Linked DNA regions of Homo sapiens: all the other regions are reported to be linked to region 3. The links are microRNA targets in miRTarBase. Many come from high-throughput screens and were not tested one by one. Region 3 holds a microRNA gene; each other region holds the end of a gene's coding sequence.
The links. Region 3 holds the annotated microRNA hsa-miR-651-3p (AAAGGAAAGUGUAUCCUAAAAG, at 2,673-2,694, opposite strand). A microRNA usually pairs through its seed, bases 2 to 8, with sites in the 3' UTR of a target mRNA and lowers its output. Matches are read on the target gene's strand: a 7mer-m8 pairs with bases 2 to 8, a 7mer-A1 pairs with bases 2 to 7 and ends in A, and an 8mer does both.

Region 1: miRTarBase lists TAF2 as a target of hsa-miR-651-3p. Seed matches in the 3' UTR shown: 7mer-m8 at 3,305-3,311, 7mer-A1 at 2,836-2,842 and 7mer-m8 at 2,764-2,770.
Region 2: the mRNA of SKI is a reported target of hsa-miR-651-3p. Seed matches in the 3' UTR shown: 7mer-m8 at 3,331-3,337.
Region 4: the mRNA of CSDE1 is a reported target of hsa-miR-651-3p. Seed matches in the 3' UTR shown: 7mer-m8 at 2,795-2,801.
Region 5: the mRNA of LAPTM4A is a reported target of hsa-miR-651-3p. Seed matches in the 3' UTR shown: 7mer-m8 at 632-638.

The regions. Positions count from the first base shown.
Region 1 is chr8:119,728,595-119,732,594 of GRCh38, forward strand. It overlaps TAF2 (TATA-box binding protein associated factor 2), which reads right to left. Exons shown (of 26, transcript NM_003184.4): 26 at 2,180-3,592. The coding sequence ends at 3,330. Among named protein-coding and RNA genes, the nearest start is that of ENPP2, 92 kb to the left of the region's middle.
Region 2 is chr1:2,306,133-2,310,132 of GRCh38, forward strand. SKI (SKI proto-oncogene) reads left to right here. Exons shown (of 7, transcript NM_003036.4): 6 at 1-118; 7 at 445-4,000. The coding sequence ends at 633. Among named protein-coding and RNA genes, the nearest start is that of SKI, 80 kb to the left of the region's middle. RefSeq lists an enhancer at 522-1,155.
Region 3 is chrX:8,125,560-8,129,711 of GRCh38, reverse strand. MIR651 (microRNA 651) reads right to left here and starts at 2,747; the gene lies at 2,651-2,747. The region is part of intron 1 of LOC107985675 (a long non-coding RNA gene); the gene reads right to left.
Region 4 is chr1:114,714,939-114,718,938 of GRCh38, forward strand. CSDE1 (cold shock domain containing E1) reads right to left here. Exons shown (of 20, transcript NM_001007553.3): 19 at 3,675-3,807; 20 at 1,978-3,278. The coding sequence ends at 3,231. It overlaps NRAS (NRAS proto-oncogene, GTPase), which reads right to left and starts at 1,833. Exons shown (of 7, transcript NM_002524.5): 1 at 1,720-1,833; 2 at 1,112-1,239. The coding sequence starts at 1,222. RefSeq lists enhancers at 1,529-1,628, 1,639-1,838.
Region 5 is chr2:20,029,539-20,033,538 of GRCh38, reverse strand. It overlaps LAPTM4A (lysosomal protein transmembrane 4 alpha), which reads left to right. Exons shown (of 7, transcript NM_014713.5): 7 at 260-889. The coding sequence ends at 334. Among named protein-coding and RNA genes, the nearest start is that of MATN3, 19 kb to the right of the region's middle.

The DNA of each region.
Region 1 (4,000 bases), not on the chromosome of region 3:
TCAGCCTCCTGAGGAGCTGGGATTACAGGCACGGGCCACCATGCTCGGCTAATTTTTGTATTTTTAGTAGAGACGGGGTTTCACCATGTTGGTCAGGCTGGTCTCAAACTCCTGACCTTGTGATCTGCCCGCCTCAGCCTCCCAAAGTGCTGGGATTACAGGCGTAAGCCACTACGCCCGGCACAGTAAGAATACTTTTAAGCCCTGATTTTTAAGTAGTAATAAAATTTCTAGAATAATATATAATTGTTAAGAAAACCATACTTTGATGATAAAAATAGTCCAAATAGTATGCATATCAGGGTGACATGAAAAATCATATCAGACAATATAGAATTTAAGCCAAAAACTATAAAAAAGAGGCAAAGGACACAATGACAAAAGGACCAATTCATTCAGAGGGTATTACAATTGTAAACATATATGCACTCAACCTCAAAGCATCTTAATACTATATATAAGAGAAATATTAAAGGATCTGAAGGAGAGATAGACTGCAATACAATATTGCAGGAGATACTGAAGGAGCCTTCAATACCCCACTTTCAACAATGGACAGATCATTCAGACATGTAACAAGGAAACACTGAACTTTAACACTTTAGACCAAATGTACCTAACAGACATATACAAAACATTCAATCCAACAGCAACAGAGTATACATTCTTCTGGAGCACATATGAACCATTCTCCAGAATCTAACATGTTAGGGCACAAAACAAGCTTCAGCAAATTTAAGAAGACTGAAATCTTCTTGATTTCTGTCAATTCAATTAAATTTCAGTTCATTTCAAAATTCTGAAAATTCTACTTGAAATCATATTTTTCTGACCACAATTATGAAACTAGAAGTCAAAACGAGAACTTCAGAAAATTCATAAGTATATGGGAATTAAACAACATGCTCTTGAACGCATGAACTACCAATGAGTCAATGAAGAAATTAAAAGGGAACTTAAAAAATATGTTCAGACAAGGCTGGGTGTGGTGGTTCATGCCTGTAATCCCAATGCTTTGGGAGGTTGAGGTGGGAGGACGGCTTGTGGCCAGAAGTTCAAGACCAGCCTGGGCAACACGGTGAGACCCTGTCTCTACCAAAAAAAAAAAAAAAAAATTAAATAGAAGGAAAAAAAAAGTTGAACCCCTATTTTTTTGTTAAAATAAACTGCAGATGGATTCAAGTTGGATGAAGAACGTAAACCTGAAACATAAAATTTTAAGAACATTCCAAAAAAGTGAATTATTATATAATTGTAGAATGAGGAAGATCTTAGTAACTATGACATAATATGCAAAAGCCATAAAAGATAAAGCATAATTTAAAAAAAAACAATTTCTGCAAGTCTGTATTATATGCTACTGCTTGTTTTAAAAAATCTGTACATACTGTAAAAATACATGGAAATATATATATAGACATGTGCTGGAAAGATATATATAATACTGTCAAAAATTACTGCCTCTGGGAAAGGAGACTGGGAGACTTAGACTGAAACTGCATTGTGTTTAATTATCTATTTCAAAAATGTGAATAAAATACCTTTTGCGTTGTCTGCTCCCAACCAGAAGCATAAATAATCAAGAGTTCACCATAAAAAGAAGTTCCCTGGAAGAAACATCTAATATAAACATCTGATAAAGAAATAATATACATAAGGTTCCTGGTACAATGTCTAGCATACAAGAGGTGCCTGAATTATAATAGCTAGCTATTATTTATCAATGTCTTCCTATAACACAAGTAATTATTTTGAAATGTGTGCTTTGAATTTTCAAAGTTGGGAATTCTATATATGGTATCACTATACACTCTAAAATATCCTATTTTCCAAAAATAATTTCAGTTGGACAACATTCAATTAATTGAAACTTTAAATAACTGTCATTTAGGCCCTTCAACATCTGATAATATTCCCTTTGCACTTATACTCCAGGCCAACTGCACAGCCTTCTAATTCCTGAATACACCCTTGCTTTCCTACATACCTTTGAAGATACTGTTTCTTCTGCTGAGAGAACTTTACCCCATCTCAGCCTACTGAAATCATTCCTCCTAGTGAGGCCAGCTAAAAATCCCACCTATTCACAAAGCTCTCTGCAAACTATGTGGACAGGTTTATTATATATACACACACAAGAAGGTAACACAAAATATAAAAAGCTACAAAGACAGAATGATCAACTTAAAAAGTTATTTATTAAACAAGTTAAACACAACTAAAAGTATATTTAGAGGTCCAAGATTCAAGTATTTTTGTCAAACTTTCTAATGATAAGGGGAATGATAAAAATTGAACAGATATAAAAAATATTCTTAAACAAATATTAAAGCACATGGAAAATTCAGAAATAAAAACACACCACCATATAAAGAAATCAAAATATTTCATATGTTTTTAAATGCTTATGGTATGAGAGCCAAATTGTCTATTTCCAGGTTAATAAACAATATATAAGCTCACCTTTTTAAAGGTATCATACTTTGTGTCATATAGAAATAATTTTGGAAACAGTATGTGTTGGGTGTGTAAATTGTCCACATTAAGCAAAACATATTTTACATATGAATATTTTCATTTATACTTACTGGAAAACAAAACAAAAAAACTTATAATTTAAACATCTTGATTTGAAAATAATTTTGGATTTGATAGTTCTGCTAAATTCCAACATCGTAACCGCCGAATGTGTTATCAAAAGATAGTTATTCAAAATTTTTTTAAAAAAGAATTGCTTCCCCAAATCTCAGTATTTTAGAGCAAAAGGAAAAATAACATATTCTTTGTTCATAAATTCTGATGCTTAGTTTCTACGTTAATACAAAAATGGTGCAATAAGGAAGAGTACTGTAGAAAAGCCACTGTCTTTTCAGTAGTTCCAAATGGTGTTATACAATATTTCACTGGAGATAGTGGTTGCACCACAGATTTGGCAGTTGCTTCTGTGTAAATCATAACTTTGCCCCATAACATCCACCAAAGGCTTTCAAACATAATTGACTTTGGCGGTACACATGGAGACCATGATGCGAACGGGGACTGCCAGTGGATATGAGGGCTTTTATGAAAGGGAGTTTGCTCTGTGTGTGTGTTTTGGGGAGGAAACAGCGGATGAAATAGTTTATCCAGAACTACAAAACACATTTTCCTAATTAGATCCCAACTGTATAAATAACATAAATCAAATGCTTAGAACTTAAATGAATTCAGAATTTCTGTAGGAGAGGCGAATCCTTTCCCCCCTCCCTTTTATAATTCTTCACAGAGGACAAAGCTTTAGTTACATACATTCTTCTGGACATGAAAGGAAAGGTCTTTTTGTCCCCTTCTCAGTCTGAAAGGGAAGGAGAACGAATAGACCTGCCACTGGCAGGGCTGGAGAAAGTGAAAGGCTCCTTGTCCTTTTCTTTACTGTCATGCTTATGCTTGTGTTTGTGCTTATGTTTATGCTTCTTCTTCTTTTTCTTGTGCTCATGGTGATGGTGGTGATGGTGGTCACTGTGTTTGGAGGCTGTAGATTCCTTAGTAAAGACTGAGAGTGGAGCGCTTGCCGCTGGATGCATACTCATCTCCAAAGGTGCTTGTTCTTTACCTTCAAGATTAAAAATACCCAAATGAATTCCTGCTGATGATACGGAAAGCCAGACTAAAGAAAGAGGAAGCTGATGACAGTATGTAAAGAGGGATTCCTAAGTTTTTATCACTTCTATCAGGAATGGGAGAAGTATCTAAATAAGACATGTAATTAGTTACACACAGAGTTTTTCAGCATTGTGGCCAGGAAGTTGAATATATAGTTCCTTATAGTCTATACAAATTTGGCCATATACCAGTGTGTTACCAAATCATCTTTTAAAAATTAATATTTTCTAAGTATTATGAAAAAACAATATTACACACGGTGTTATAGGTTAAGACCCACACTGGGTCCGGGGGCGGTGGCTCACTCCTGTAATCCCAGCACTTTGGGAGGCCAAGGCGGGTAGATCACTTGAGGTCA
Region 2 (4,000 bases), not on the chromosome of region 3:
GAAAGAGGCCAACGAGTCACGGCTGCGCCTGAAGCGGGAGCTGGAGCAGGCGCGGCAGGCCCGGGTGTGCGACAAGGGCTGCGAGGCGGGCCGCCTGCGCGCCAAGTACTCGGCCCAGGTATGCGGGTGGGGAGACTGAGGCACGCAGCACGGTGGGCGTGGAGCCGCCGTGGGCCCCGGTGGCCAGTCCTGCCCAGCCGGAAAGGCCTTGGAGCAGAAGCCAGGCCCGGGACCACGTTCCGTGCGTGCCCCCCCGACGGGCACAGGGTGGGTGGTTGCTGGGCCCTGCGTCTCGTGAGCCTGTGTCCTAGCAGGTGGAGGAGGGGCCGGCACGCGGCACTGGGGAGGGACAGGGAGCGGCGCAGGAGCCTCGGGTGGGGGAAGCAGCGTCGGGCCGGGGCAGGGCAGCGAGCAGGCGCCGCTGACCACTCGGCTCCCTTTCAGATCGAAGACCTGCAGGTGAAGCTGCAGCACGCGGAGGCGGACCGGGAGCAGCTGCGGGCCGACCTGCTGCGGGAGCGCGAGGCCCGGGAGCACCTGGAGAAGGTGGTGAAGGAGCTGCAGGAACAGCTGTGGCCGCGGGCCCGCCCCGAGGCTGCGGGCAGCGAGGGCGCTGCGGAGCTGGAGCCGTAGATTCCGTGCCTGCCGCCGCAGCGCCGCCGACAACGCGGGTGCAGGGGGGCGCGGCTGGGCGGTGCAGCTCCGCCCGGCTCCGCCCCTGCAGCCCACACAGCACAACGTCTTACCGTGCCTATTACCAAGCGAGTGTTTGTAACCATGTAGTTTTGGAACCCACTGCAAAATTTTCTACTGGCCAAGTTCAAGTGAGTAAGCCGCGTCCCCCAACTACAGCTGGAGACGGGGCCAGCTCGGCGGCCTGCTGGTCCTCTGCTTGCTGGAACATTCTAACATTTACACTTTTGTTATAAGCTATTTAAAACCAGTAAGGAGACTTGAAATTCAGAAAATCAACACATTTTTAAATGACTAACTTCTAAAAGCCCCAACACATGACGCCATCTGAAGACCCGCAACGGAGTGGGGGTGGCGGCCGCCCCACCCTCCCCACCCGGGGAAGCCATCACAGCTCATCTGCCCGCGGCTGCGTGAGGACAGCAGGGGTTTTTCTTCAGAGTCTATTTTTTCAGCGACAAGGACCCAGGTCTTCCTGCTGCTGCCAGGGAGAGCAGGGACAGTGCCGCGTGCGAGATGAGCTCGAACACTGCCCGCCTTACTGCCGCCTACCCCGCCCGCCACGCCGCCGTCGATGCCAGCGCTGTCCCCACGGGTACCAGGAAGTGCAGAGCCGCACAGGAGCTGCCCCGGAGCTGAGGGGACGGTCTTCGGCTCCTCTGCACCCCGTGATTCTGCCCACGCTCCTCCACCACGAGGCACTGACCTGCGTCGGGTGGTGACCGTGGCTGGCGGTCACGCCCTCAGCCCCTCCGGGCACACGTGCCGCCTGACCGGGCGACCCTTTTCAGTTCGGCAAACGTCGCTCCCTTCATTTTGGGACTGAGGCTGCAGCATTGGAACAAAAGAGCATTATTTCAATTTTTCTTTCTTTTTTTTTGTTCGTTCATTTAAACGTATATTTAGAACTGCACTTTGTCCACAACCTTCCCTTCTCTTTCTATTCCCCAGTGAACTGAGGTTTTTACCGATTTATAGAGCAGTCAAATCCGAAGTGCTCGAGTGCTTAGAAACCCCCTCTGGTGCTTGGTTGAACAAGGGAATCACAAGAAAACGAAAATGCAAAAACTGAACTTCGGGGGTCGTTCTGTGCCTTCCAGCATCTTGTACAGCAAATCCTGACTCGTGTCTTTTTACCCCCAAGATATCTGTCTTCAGTAGCGACTGAATCTGCCACTCTCAGAATAAGTTCCTTGCATTTATTCCAAATAATCTCGTTTACTCTCACCTGTTTATGCAAATTGTATAAGGTTTCTTATGCCCAAGCTTGAAAAATGATTTCCCAGTAGACAAGAGGCGGCTACCTATCCTACAGTTACGGTATTTATTTACATAAGAAGATCTTACAGGAGTTCTTTGCTTGAATCCGTTCTAACACCCGCGGCAGCTGCACGCGCTCACAGAAGGTGGAGGTTACTTGCCCAGGTACAGACGACCTCGGGGCAGTGACGAGCAAAGACCAGAGACTGCTGAGCCCTCGCATCTGGGTGGCGGAATTGCCTGCGGGGTTTTGCCCTTGGTTTACTGAGGGGGGTCTTGGTTGCTGCTGAAGCCCCCCACCCCTTCTAAAGTGCAATGCAAAAGGGACATCATGTATATGCAGCGTTTGTTTGGAATTTTCTTTGCTTTTGTTTTCTTTGCGGTTGTTCTGTGTGCATGGATTCCACACCTCTGCCGTAGGTAGATCCGTCAGCGGGCATTATTACCGTGTCTTGTAAAGGGTCGGTTTTGTTATGCAACATGCAGAATGCTGTTTTTAGCCTTGTTTTACCAGAGTTGTTTTTTTTTTCAGTTATTTCTTCAAGGGAAACTAAATGATTTAGTTGGAGCAAAGCTTTAAGTGTGTTGGCGTGCTTCTGTGTGGCTGTCCTGTGTCGCCAGGTCGAAGATCACAGTGAGGTAGAGGCCCTGCCCCATCCCCAGGGCCGCCAGGCTTGCTCCGTTTGCTTTGAGTTTTTAGACCCCAGAGGGAGATGAGCTTTTCCAAGCTGTGTCTGGGCCAGAGCCTCTCCTTGCCCTTGCTCCATCCCGACGGTCACCGTTGGGTCCACGCCTCCACCGCCCCATCTTGCCCCAAACGGAAAGCGCTGTATCTGCAGTGGCAGCCCTTCCCCACTTCGGCTCTGGGAGGGTCCAGCCAGTGTCACCTGGGCCCACCCTTTCCTGCAGCTGCCAGGCCCGTGCGGTCAGTGGGACCCGGACGTGGGCAGGCGAGCTCGGGACCCTCCCAGGCAGTTCCCACAGCTCTTGCCTCGGCTCACCAGGGTCACTTCCACTGTCAGGGGCCTGAGGGGGCAGCTGTGGCTGCAGGGCTGCTCTGGACTGAGGGGTCCCAGGCCCCGAGGGGTGCACGCCTGGCTCCCCTTGGCACAGGTGCGAGTCCGTTTCTTTTCAGCAGAAGGGGGAAGAGGTGTCCGCTGTGTGGGCTGCTGACTCCTCTGTGTGTGAGGCCCTTCATCTAAGTGATTGTGTATTCAGTTTAATTCTCATTATATTTCTATACTGAAAGAAGATTTTTAACGAAGGGAAAAACAACAGCAATAACATTCATATCTCTGGAGCAGCTAACTCATACACGTAATGTCTGCTTTTCGTACAGAACTAGCCAATGTAAAAACAGTTCACCTGTAAATACTTTTTCCTTTTTCACCGTTGTATTATACATGTATATGCTGGGTCCTTTTTCAGAAACTCTTTTCTTACCTGAGAGTTGTCTTGTTTTCTGGGCTGTTTTTAACTGAGGAAAAAAAAAATGCTTTCCTGCCGGGGGGCAGGGGAGACGGAGAAACCCATGTGCGTTTCCCATGTGACCCCCTCCTCCCTGTGGGTCTGAGCCCCGGCCCCCCCCACCTCCTCCTCCCTGTGGGTCCGAACCCCGGCCCCCCCACCCCCTCCTCCCTGTGGGTCCGAACCCCGGCCCCCCCACCCCCTCCTCCCTGTGGGTCCGATCCCCGGCCCCCCCCACCCCCTCCTCCCTGTGGGTCCGAACCCCGGCCCCCCCCCCACCCCCTCCTCCCTGTGGGTCCGAACCCCGGCCCCCCCACCCCTCCCTCAGCCCACCAGGGTCCAGGGAGATGTTCGTTCTCGCTTTAAGTCAGGAGTCACAAATGACTTTTTTTTTTCAATTAAGGAAAAAGCTCCATCTCTACCTTTAACATCACCCAGACCCCCGCCCCTGCCCGTGCCCCACGCTGCTGCTAACGACAGTATGATGCTTACTCTGCTACTCGGAAACTATTTTTATGTAATTAATGTATGCTTTCTTGTTTATAAATGCCTGATTTAAAAAGAAAAGAGCTTGGCATAT
Region 3 (4,152 bases):
TGAGTGTGTTAGCTCAGGTCTCTCTTGCTCTTCATATAAAGCCATCAGTCCCACTCTTGTTACAACCCATCAATACATTAATTCATAAACTGATTAATCCATTAATTAATAAGTGGATAATCCATTCTTGACAGCAGAGTCTTTATGACCCAGGCTCCGCTTAAAGGCCCCACCTCTCAACATCAGGGATTAAGTTTCAACATGAATTTTGGAAGGGACAAACACTCAAATCATAGCAGACCATGATTGCACAACAGTGTAATATCAGTATGGTAGGCTAGAGTTAGGTCAGATTTGACTTACACCAGCGCTGACAGTCTTTTATAAGTTATGGGGCCTTTTATATGAATAGTAATATCTATTCTGAAAGGAAAATAAAAACTTGGGGCCCCAACTCACTATGCCAGAAGAAAACAAACTAAGCTGAAAATTGAGTCGTGCAAGAAACTGCCTTTCCTCTTGTTCCTCTACAGACAGCTAAGATAAAAGGTTAAATGTCTCCATAGGTAGCTACTCTGTGTTCACCTTATCTTATGTAAAGTGCTGATTTATGGAGCAAGAGATAAATATATTATTGACTATTCCCCAACCTGCTTCCTTTCACTTGCAGCATGTGGATTCAGTAATGTGACCATACCCTCCCTTTTTCCCCTCCAGACAGCTATTCCTCTTCAAATGCTGAAGTCCTCAACATTATCTTTGGAGAAAGGCACAAACCTCCTTCACGATTATTTCCTTCTCAGTGGCAAAATAAACTTCTAAATTGATTGAGACCTGTCTCAGATACCTTTTGGTTTATACTATCTTGCAGAACTCTTAAGGCAAATGGAAATAGCGTATGTAAAATCCTTTGCAGAATTCCTGACATATAACAGGAACTTAATAAATACTAAATATTGGTAGATATTGGTATGCTTTTTCTAACGTCAAAGAAGGTTTATAGCAGCTATAACTAAATAAAGAAGATTGAAGGCAGCCTTAGCTCTAAAATAAAGTCCCTCTCCCAAGGGAATTTAGGGTCTCTCAGGAGAGATTAGATAAGGACATTCATGAAAACAATCCAGAGCCGTATGGATATGATTGGAATAAAGGGCTTGAAGAAAGAGTTGTATGTAATCTTAGGATGCAGACTTCACTTCTGGCTGGTGCAATCAATGAATGAATGCTTTGTGGAGGATGGAGCATTTGAGCAGGGCCATGAAGAAAGGTTGCTATAGACAGAGGTATCAGGTACTTGCAACTAGAAGGAAAAGAACCAGTACCAGAAAGTGGAAACTATAATGTATTTAAAAAACAATGCAAGACAGTGACTGGTTGGGGATTCCAGTTGATGTAAGGCCATGTCTGGGAAAGAATGCACAGGACAGTATTGTGTCCTCAAAGACCAGCTAAGGGCCGGGCACAGTGGCTAACACCTGTAATCCCAGCACTTTGGGAGGCCGAGGCAGAAAGATCACTTGAGATCAGGAGTTTGAGACCAGCCTGGCCAACATGGTGAAATCCTGTCTCTACTAAAAATACAAAAATTAGTTGGGCATGGTGGCACACACCTATAGTCCTGTGGTCCCAGCTACTCGAGAGGCTGAGGCAGAAGATCACTTGAACCCGGGAGGCGGAGGTTGCAGTGAGCCGAGATTGTGCCACTGCACTCCAGAATGGGCAACAGAGCGAGATCCTTTCTTAAAAAAAAAAAAAAGGAAAAAAAATTGGCTAAGAATTTAGGACTTTCTTAAGGAGATAAAGGGAAGATATTTAAGACTCTCATAGAACACAATTTAGACGGCTAAAAAGCTAAAGATGAATGCAATGTATCATAGCATCATCTTACATGAGTAGGTCTTGGGGCTTGGTTTGGTTTGTTTTGCATTTCACAGTCCTTTACCAGAGAGTTGCAGGTTGTTATCAACATTTTCTGCAGACTTTTGGAGATAAACTGTTTTATCTTAGAGTGATTCCTCCTGATACAATATAATGAGAGGAATACAAACCCCTTTATAGAAAAGGCACACATTTCAGCATACAGCCTAGGTAAAAAGTAAGGGTTAACTGGCTTAGTTGAGATTAATTATATAGATGTTTATTTCCCAGTTGTTATGTGTCTGTAACATAAAAGTGGTTATTGACTAAAAGTAGATGTGCTTCATTAATATCAGTGTGAGGAGAAGAGCAACAGGGAAATGCAGGCACCCATGCCGTGTGGGCTGGAATCTGGAAGACGTGGCCCCTGGCCAGGTATGCGCTGATGACAGGTGACATTCACCTTGCAATCTGCCATAAAATGGGAATCATAATACCTGCTCAGTCCTCCAGATGAAATATTGACTGGAAGTCATATATAAAATCGTCAAGCAAAATGCACAATAAAATTAAAATTGCTACTTTTCAAGACATAGGAAGTGTATTAATTGTTTTTTCCTGCTTCTTTTCTGTCAGGATCAACGTTGAATAAAGTTTTGTCAAACACATCTCACTTGATGCATCTCATATCACTTAAAAAATAACATTGGGAAAGTCTTTCCTTTCACTTTATTCATCCTGACTCTTCTTTGCTAAATATTCTGTATACAAATTTCCACATAACATTATGTTTAGAGTTGTACTATCCACACAAAATGGTTCATATATGGATCTCTTGAAGGTTGCATGTCAGAAACACATTAAACTGTCATTGCCTTTTAGGATACACTTTCCTTTTGCATTTTTATTTGAACAAAAGTCAAGCTTATCCTAAAAAGCAGTGATAGATTTCTGTAGATCTAGGGAATTGTTAATACATTTTGTTATCTGTATCATACATTTGTACACAGCTGCTGAGTAATTCAACTGTTTAGAGTTGAACTAATGTTTTTGAACAATAAGTCAAATTCCACGATTTAATCTACATCACAAGAATTTCACTTCCATGGCATTATGGAAAAATGCGCAATCTGTTGTCAAGGTTGAATTTCATTTCTGCTTTCACAAATAAATTATGCCTGTCATTTCCATTAGACACAGTCCTTACCTAGATCGTTACAAAACATCTTTGAGAAGCTTAGGGCATCTCCTATGTTCCACTTCAGATAGAGATATAATTTACTGAGGGGTTAGAAAGAATGGTCAATAAAGCTGACAAAATATTTTAGCATTTGGAAAAAAATTTAAATGCCTTAGTGCAATAATTCCTGGGGAAACTATGGTCGCTAAAATGACTATAATTCTTATTCATGTTCATTCCCGGTTTAGGGGCCTTCCTTAAAGAAACTAATTTCAGAATTTATTTAAGTCATAATAAAGGGTCTTAAAACCACCTGATTTCCTGAAGTTTTCTTTACCACTCTGATTTCCTGGTGCCTTCCTCTCTTCCCTGTGTCTAGGTGGAGAGTGGGAGGTGCACATATGAGGTAATGATGTGTGTGATGATGTAATGACGTGTCTGATTATGCAATGATGTGTTTGGTGATGAAATGATGAATGTAATGATGCATGAGAGGCTCTTGTTGATTGCAGATGATAAGAATAAAAGACTTAGCTCACTACTTCTGGCAGGGTCTGGTAAGAAGGCATTACCACCCTATGCATTCCAACAGAAGGAATCTATTGAAAATGAATCATTTAGAAAGGGGCAGGAGATCCAGAAGAAGGTAGAAAGGGAAGGTAAGATGGCCAAGAGATTAAGAACTGCAGAAAGCTCCTACCACTTCTGTGCTGAAGGAGTGAAAGAGAAAATGGTTTCACCAAGAGCCCGTAATCCCCCACCACTGAGGCTCTGAGAGTATTCATGGCAGCCTTAGAACCAAGACCACCACCTTGCAGGAATGCAGGAGCCCAGGGCCCTGATGCTGTCTCAGGACTCTGGGAGCCTGAAGCTGCCAGCCCGTCACCACCATGGCTTGAGCCAGAGCCTGCACCTGCCGTGCCCCACAGGCTGCTGCATTTGTGCTCGACACTGCTGCCTCACTGCGACCACACTGCCTGGGGACCACGTGGGAGCCAGTCTTTCCCTTATGGAGGCTCTGGACAAAGGGAGGGAACCCAAAAGCCTTCCAGTTCCTGTCTGTGCTTCCCATTGGAAGAGCCCCATATTCCAATCTCACACAGTTCACCCCCACCCCGACCCTTTCAAAACTCATGCAAGTTCTTCTCTTTGGTAATCACTAATCCAACACCCAT
Region 4 (4,000 bases), not on the chromosome of region 3:
GATGGTAGGGAGGCCAGGTGTTGATTAAAATAATCTCTAAAGTTAGGCATTTCTAAACTGAACAAAATTACAAAACCCTTTATTTATTTATCTATTTATTTATTTTTTGAGACGAAGTCTCGCTCTGTTGCCCAGGCTGGAGGTCTGTGGTGTGATCTCGGCTCACTGCACCCTCTGCCTCTGGTTCAAGCGATTCTCCTGCCTCAGCCTCCTGAGTAGCTGGGATTACAGGTGCCTGCCACCACACCCAGCTAATTTTTGTATTTTTAGTAGAGACGGGGTTTCACCATGTTGATCAGGCTGGTCTTGAACTCCTGACCTTGTGATCCGCCTGCCTCAGCCTCCCAAAGTGCTGGGATTACAGGCGTGAGCCACCGTGTCCGGCAAAACCCTTTATTTAAAGAGCCTTAGGTGCCACTTACTGAAGACAATCTGTACCATGAACTCTCATAATAACAATAGAATCCCTAAGTACTATTACATAGTGCTTTACCATTCATAAATAACTTAAATATATTATTTAACTTTCCATAACATCCCTGTGTGGTAGGCAGGACAAGTTTATGGTAATTTAAAACATGAGGAAAATGAGGTTGGGAGAGATTCAGTTGCTCAATATCACACAACTAAATAAACTGCAAACAGGGACCAAAATCCTAGGCATAAAGACTAAAAATCTCAAGTTCTTGCTACTCCAATCATCTGGTCTCAGCTGCTTCAACTAGCTAATAAATAAATATTGAAGAACACTCATCTCTGAATCCTTTATCTCCATCCTATTATCTCCCATACAATCAGACAGTCTCGCTACTATGGCCTGTGTTTCTCATGTAATAGAGCTGTTATATATGAAGAAACTCATGAATGAACTCAACACTGAGTTTGCAATAGTTTACAGAACTGTTAAAAACTGGACAGGTTTTAGAAACTTCAGCAGCTAATAAAAATGAACTGTTCTCTATAAACACGTTAAGCTTATTGCATAACTGAATGTATACCCAAAATAACTTTTTACTTTCTCTCCTCTTATTCCTTTAATACAGAATATGGGTAAAGATGATCCGACAAGTGAGAGACAGGATCAGGTCAGCGGGCTACCACTGGGCCTCACCTCTATGGTGGGATCATATTCATCTACAAAGTGGTTCTGGATTAGCTGGATTGTCAGTGCGCTTTTCCCAACACCACCTGCTCCAACCACCACCAGTTTGTACTCAGTCATTTCACACCAGCAAGAACCTGTTGGAAACCAGTAATCAGGGTTAATTGGCGAGCCACATCTACAGTACTTTAAAGCTTTCTATAATCAATGGAAATGAAAACCCTAGTGTGACCTTCCATTTGGTTCTTAAAGTGACTAGAGAACGCAAAAACACCGGATTAATATCGGCCTCACACTTCTGGAGTAGTTTTCTAGCAACCCCCATCCTTAGCTATTTTTCAACAGTCCTTGGGCCCCGCCCTCAGCCTAAGCAATGGAAATCCCCCTTCCTATTACTCCCCGAAGGCTTCTCAGCTCTAGCAGGAAGCCTCCAGGCCGCAACTCCTTCCCATTCTCCCTTCTGTCTCCAAAGATCTCCCCACGTAGGCACCAAATGGAAGGACCCCCGCCCAAGGCCTTTGTCTCCAGCTGATAGATTCTGCTCCATTTCTGGCATCAGTGAAACGCCTGAACATTCCACAGCCCAAAGCCGAACACTATGCATGAGATAAACTTACCTCAAGCTCCACTGCCTCTGCTTTGGACAGATTTAGGACCACAGCCGGGAAAAATGTTGGAGACCCCGGAACCGCCATGAACAGCCCCCACCAAGGAGCGGCACTTCCGGCCCCGCCCGCTACGTAATCAGTCGGCGCCCCAGGCGCCTGAGTCCCCGCCCCGGCCACGTGGGCCTCCGAACCACGAGTCATGCGGCAGGCCGCACCCAGACCCGCCCCTCCCACACGGGACGTTTCAATAATGAAAGCGCTAGGTGCTAGTGTCTCAAAAATCAGTAAAACTTTATTCGCTTCCATTCTTTCGCCATTAACAGAAAACTGGAGAAAGCAAAAATGTTTCGTGTTTACAAAGATAAACGGCCTCTTTACCCAGAGATCAAAACCTCAAACGACAAGGGGGAAGATAAAACCGCCCTCCCCCACATCCCCTGAGCTGACCCTTGTCATCTTAGACAAAGCCTTCAGTCCACTGGCCAGGGACCCTGTATATGGCCAATTCAAGAAGAGGGCCAAGAAATCAGACCCATCCATTCCCGTGATATAAAGTTGAACAGAAGCTACACCAAGGGTCAAGTGTCTGTATTTTACAGGACACAGTAACCAGGCGGCTACTTATAAAAAAAAACAAGATTCATTTCAGGCACAACTTTTTTATTTTTTTTTGTTTTGTTTTTAAATCAGTAAAAGAAACCGGGTCCTAGAAGCTGCAGTGATCTAAGCAGCAGCAAGTTTGTGCATTCATTTTTTTTGTTTTTGTTTAAATATGTTTAAATTATCACACTGCTGGCACTCCTCATTTGCATGAAATTCTGCACCATACTTACTAATTGTAGTAAAGTTACCCCCCAACCCACGAAAAAAAACCTACTCTGGAAGAAAATTTTCACTGAAATATAACCAAACTTCTTTAAGTGGATTGTGACAAGATTATAAATGATATGAAAAATAACATTTTAAAATTTGGCCATCAACTTTAAGAAATGGTTTGCCTATACAAATTTTTGTAATTTTTAAAAGATAATATATTCTACCCTCATATGGTCCTCAGAATTAAAGCATAATGAACAGGAAGAAAAAGGAAAAGAATGCAACTGAGTGCTAAGGCAGAACATCTTGCCAGAAGTAATTAATGAAGGTAGAGTATATAATGAAAAGTGCAGAATTTCATAGGGCCAACAAGATAACAGTCTATATTTTTCACTTACACAGGCAAAGTGGATTCTGCAATTACCAGTTGCGTTAAATGCACCAAATAAAGCTCCTAAAATTGATACTATAAGGCGCCACCTTAAGTTTTTCCAGGCTGCAACTGTGCATTATTTAAAATGGTTTTCTTAAATTTATTTATTTTTTTAAACATAACACGAGGAAGGTGTTAAAACTGGTGTAATAGCTCAATAGAATAAGTATTCCAGATTTCGGGAGGGATGAAGAGGGAGATATTCAGAACCCTTCACCAGATTCCCCCCAACTTGATCATAGTGGATTAATGGTGTGCTTTGTGGATGTGGTTAGTCAATGACACCAGCTTGACGGATCTTTCTTTCTGCACCAAACCCCTGTGGGGGGGAGAAAAAAAAAACCCTGCAGTTAATGATTTGAGCGCACAACAATCATAGTACATTCACTATTCCGAAATGAAACTACAAAAGCATTATTTTTAATCATCTTATGCAGTACTAATTCTTTCCTAGAGGAGAAAATCCACAGTAAGCACTCCTGACCCATTCATTACCTAAACTGTCTTCAAAGCATCAAGAAAAGAAATGTGCTTCTTACTGTAAGCAACCATTAGGTTAGGGGGCTGAACCAATGTGTAGAAAGTCCTAACTAGTTATAAGCAATATGGAAGTCTCCCTGCTTCATTAAGTTTCCTGACCTATTGTTTAAATAGGACCACATATTTTATGTTGGTCTATCAGTTGGCCTCCCCCAAGCCTTGTATGCCCTCATACCATTGAGTTATCTGGTCCCCTTGGCTGACGAAGAACCATTAGGCGAGGAGCACTGGCATCATCCAGAGTGATATTCTTCAAGCGATTGACCAACCGATCAGGTCGAGGAGCTGCAACAGCCTTGGGGCCCTCACTGTAATTAAGTCAAAAGATGAGAAGAAACCACACTTGGTGGGCAGACAGCAAGCACTTGCAAAGGAGTGTGTTTTCCACCTAACTGCCCAAATGACTCACTTTTTATGATGGGACTCTTGCCTCATATACCTAGCTAGAAAGACAGGACAGACAAGTTTGTTTATGTATTATTATCCCCAACTCAAGGTCCC
Region 5 (4,000 bases), not on the chromosome of region 3:
GCCTGTCTAGGAATCCTTGTCCAGAAGCAGGACTCTCTCTCCCCACCTCCCTCTCTCCACCCTCCCCTTCGCTAGCAATCTTGGTAAAATTCCAGGTTATTGAGGCATCTACTTGGGAACATTTTAGCTAACAGTTTCTTCAGCTCTTCTTTATGGTTTTGTATAACCCTATTTAGGGCATAAAGTCTGAAAGCTGAATTATCTCACAAAGGATTTTAAAGGAGAATTAAATCTGATACAATTTTTTTTCTCTCTTTAGTACGTTTTGCCAACCTATGAAATGGCCGTGAAAATGCCTGAAAAAGAACCACCACCTCCTTACTTACCTGCCTGAAGAAATTCTGCCTTTGACAATAAATCCTATACCAGCTTTTTGTTTGTTTATGTTACAGAATGCTGCAATTCAGGGCTCTTCAAACTTGTTTGATATAAAATATGTTGTCTTTTGTTTAAGCATTTATTTTCAAACACTAAGGAGCTTTTTGACATCTGTTAAACGTCTTTTTGTTTTTTTGTTAAGTCTTTTACATTTTAATAGTTTTTGAAGACAATCTAGGTTAAGCAAGAGCAAAGTGCCATTGTTTGCCTTTAATTGGGGGGTGGGAAGGGAAAGAGGGTACTTGCCACATAGTTTCCTTTTTAACTGCACTTTCTTTATATAATCGTTTGCATTTTGTTACTTGCTACCCTGAGTACTTTCAGGAAGACTGACTTAAATATTCGGGGTGAGTAAGTAGTTGGGTATAAGATCTGAACTTTTCATCTGCAGAGGCAAGAAAAATATTTGACATTGTGACTTGACTGTGGAAGATGATGGTTGCATGTTTCTAGTTTGTATATGTTTCCATCTTTGTGATAAGATGATTTAATAAATCTCTTTAAATACTTAGGGTTGTCATTGTTTTTAATCCGTTACTTTTTTTTAAGATAAACCCTGACATTTTCCATTACAGTGTATTCAGAGTGCCAGTGTTTATTTTTTTTTTAACTTTGAGAATACAGTTGGCCCTTCGTATCCATGGGTTCTGTATCCATGGGTTCTATATCCATGGAGTTAATCGACTGTGGATTGAAAATATTTGGGGGGAAAAATGGATAGTTGGATCTGTACTGAACATGTACAGACTTTTTATTCTTGTCGTTGTTCTCTAAAAAATACACTATAACAATTTATGTAGCATTCACATTATATTAGATATTATAAGTAATCTAGAGATCATTTTAAAAATATGGGAGGATATGCATGGGTCATATGCAAATACTATACCATTTTATTATAAGGGACTTGAGCAACTGTGGATTTGGGTATCTGGAGGGAGAACCTGCAACCAGTCCCCCATAGATACCAAGGGACAACTGCACAATGATGCACAGTTAATTAGAAATCATTTTCTTAATCCATTAACTCTAAATTTGTGGTGAAGATATTTCTTGAATCACAGGACAGAAATTAATACCGGTGGTTTGAAAAGTGATTGCTGTAGCAATCTTTTTTTTATGTCTTATTTTTTTTCTTTCCAACTTCTTAGGTTCAGAGGGTACATGTGCAGGTTTGTAACATGGGTAAATTGTGTTGCAGGGGTTTTGTCAGTGTTTTGTCATCCAGGTTGTGAGCATAGTACCTGATAGCTAGTTTTTTGATCCTCACCCTCTACTCTCAGGTAGGCCCTGGTATCTATTACTCCCTTCTTTGTGTCCATGTGTACTTAATGTTTAGCTCCCACTTATAAGTGAGAGTATTTGGATTTCTGTTCTTGCATTAATTTGCCTAGGATAATGGCCTCCAGCTCCATCCATGCTCCTGCAGAGGACATGATCTTGTTCTTTTTTATGACTGTAGTATTCCATAATATATATGTACCACATTTTCATTATCCAGTCCACTGTTGATGGGTATTTAGGTTGATTCCATGCTTTTGCTATTGTGAATAGTGCTGTGATGAACATATGTGTACATGTGTCTTTTTGGGAGAATAATTTATATTCCTTTAGGTATATACCTGATAATAGGATTGCTGGGTTGAATGGTAGAATGTTTTAAGTTTGAGAAATCCCTTATGCTGCTTTACACAGAGATGGAACTAATTTGCATTCCCACCAACAGTGTGTAAGTGTTCCCTTTTCTCTGCAACCTTGCCAGCATATGTTTCTTTTTACTTTTTAATCATAGCTGTTCTGACTGGGGTGAGATGGATTTCTCTGATTATTAGCATTTCTCTAATGGTTAGTGATGTTGAGCATTTTTTCATTTACTTATTGGCCATGTGTATGTCTTTTGAGAAGTGTCTGTTCATGTCCTTTACCAATTTTTTTTTTTTTTTTTTGAGACAGGGTCCTCGCTCTGTCACCTAGGCTGGAGTGCAGTGGCACGATCTTGGCTCTCTGCAACCTCCACCTCCTGGGTTCAAGCGATTCTCATGACTCAGCCTCCTGTGTAGCTGGGACTACAGGTGTGTGCCACCACACCCGGCTAATTTTCGTATTTTTAGTAGAGATGGGGTTTCACCATGTTAGCTAGGCTGGTCTCGAACTCCTGACCTCAAGTGTTCCACCTTCCTCAGCCTCCCAAAGTGCTGAGATTACAGCTGTGAGCCACTACACCCAGCCTCCTTTGCCCACTTTTAATGTTGTTGTTGTTGTTGTTGTTTTGTTTTTTGCTTAAGTTCCTTATAGATTCTGAATATTAGACCTTTGTCATATCCATAGTTTGCAAATATTTTCTTCCATTCTGTAGGTTGTCTGGTTGCTCTGTTGATAGTTTCTTTAGCAGAGCAGAGAAGCTCTTTAGTTTAATTAGGTCCCATTTGTCAATTTTTGTTTTTGTTGCAGTTGCTTTTGGTGTCTTCCTCATGAAATCTTTGCCAGGGCCTACATCCAGAATGGTATTTCTTAGGTGTCCTTCTAGGGGTTTTGTTTGTTTTGTTTTTTCAGTTAGGTTTTACATGTAAGTCTTGATATGGGTTTGGATTTGTGTCCCCATCCGAATCTTATGTTGAATTGTAATCCCCAGCATTGGAGGTGGTGCCTGGTGGGAGGTGATTGGATCATGGGGGTGGTTTCTCGTGGTTTAACATCATCCTTCTTGCTGCTGTTCTCGTGATAGTGAGTTATTGCGAGATCTGTGTGTGTAGCACCTCCCCCTTCTCTCTCTTGCTCCCGCTCCTGCAATGTAAGATGCTTGGCTCCCCCTTTGCCTTCTGCCACGACTGAAAGCTCCCTGATGCCTCCCCAGAAGCTGATGCTGCCATGCTTCCTGTACAGCCTGTGGAGTGAGCCAGTTAAACCTCTGTTCTTTATAAATTATTCAGTCTCAGCTATTTCTTTATAGCAGTGCAAGAACAGACTAATAGAAGTCTTTAATCCATCTTAAGTTATTTTTATATATGGTGAAGGTGTCTAGTTCTAATCTGCATTTGGCTAACCAGTTATCCCAGCACCATTTATTGAATAGTCCTTTCCCCATTACTTATTTTTGTCAACTTTATTGAAGATCAGATGGCTGTAGTTTGTATGGCTTTATTTCTGGGTTCTGTATTTGGTTCCATTGGTCTGTCTGTTTTTGTACCAGTACCATGCTGTTTTGATTACTGTAGTCTTGTAGTATAGTTTGAAGTTGGATAATGTGATGCCTTCAGCTTTGTTCTTTCTGCTTAGGATTGCCTTGGCTATTCAGGCTTTTTTTGGTTCCATATGAATTTTGAAATAGTTTTTTCTAATTCTGTGAAAATGCCATTGGTAGTTTAATAGGAATAGCATTGAATCTGTAAACTGCTTTGGGCAGTATGGCCATTTTAACAATATTGATTCTTCCTATCTGTGAGCATGGAATCTTTTTCCATTTGTTTATGTCGTCTCTGATTTCTGTCAGCAGTGTTTTGTAATTCTCATTATAGAGATCTTTCACCTTCCTGGTTAGCTGTATTCCTAGCTACTTAAGTCTTTTGTGGCTATTGTGAATGGGATTGCATTCTTGATTTGACTCTCAGCTTGGGTATTATTG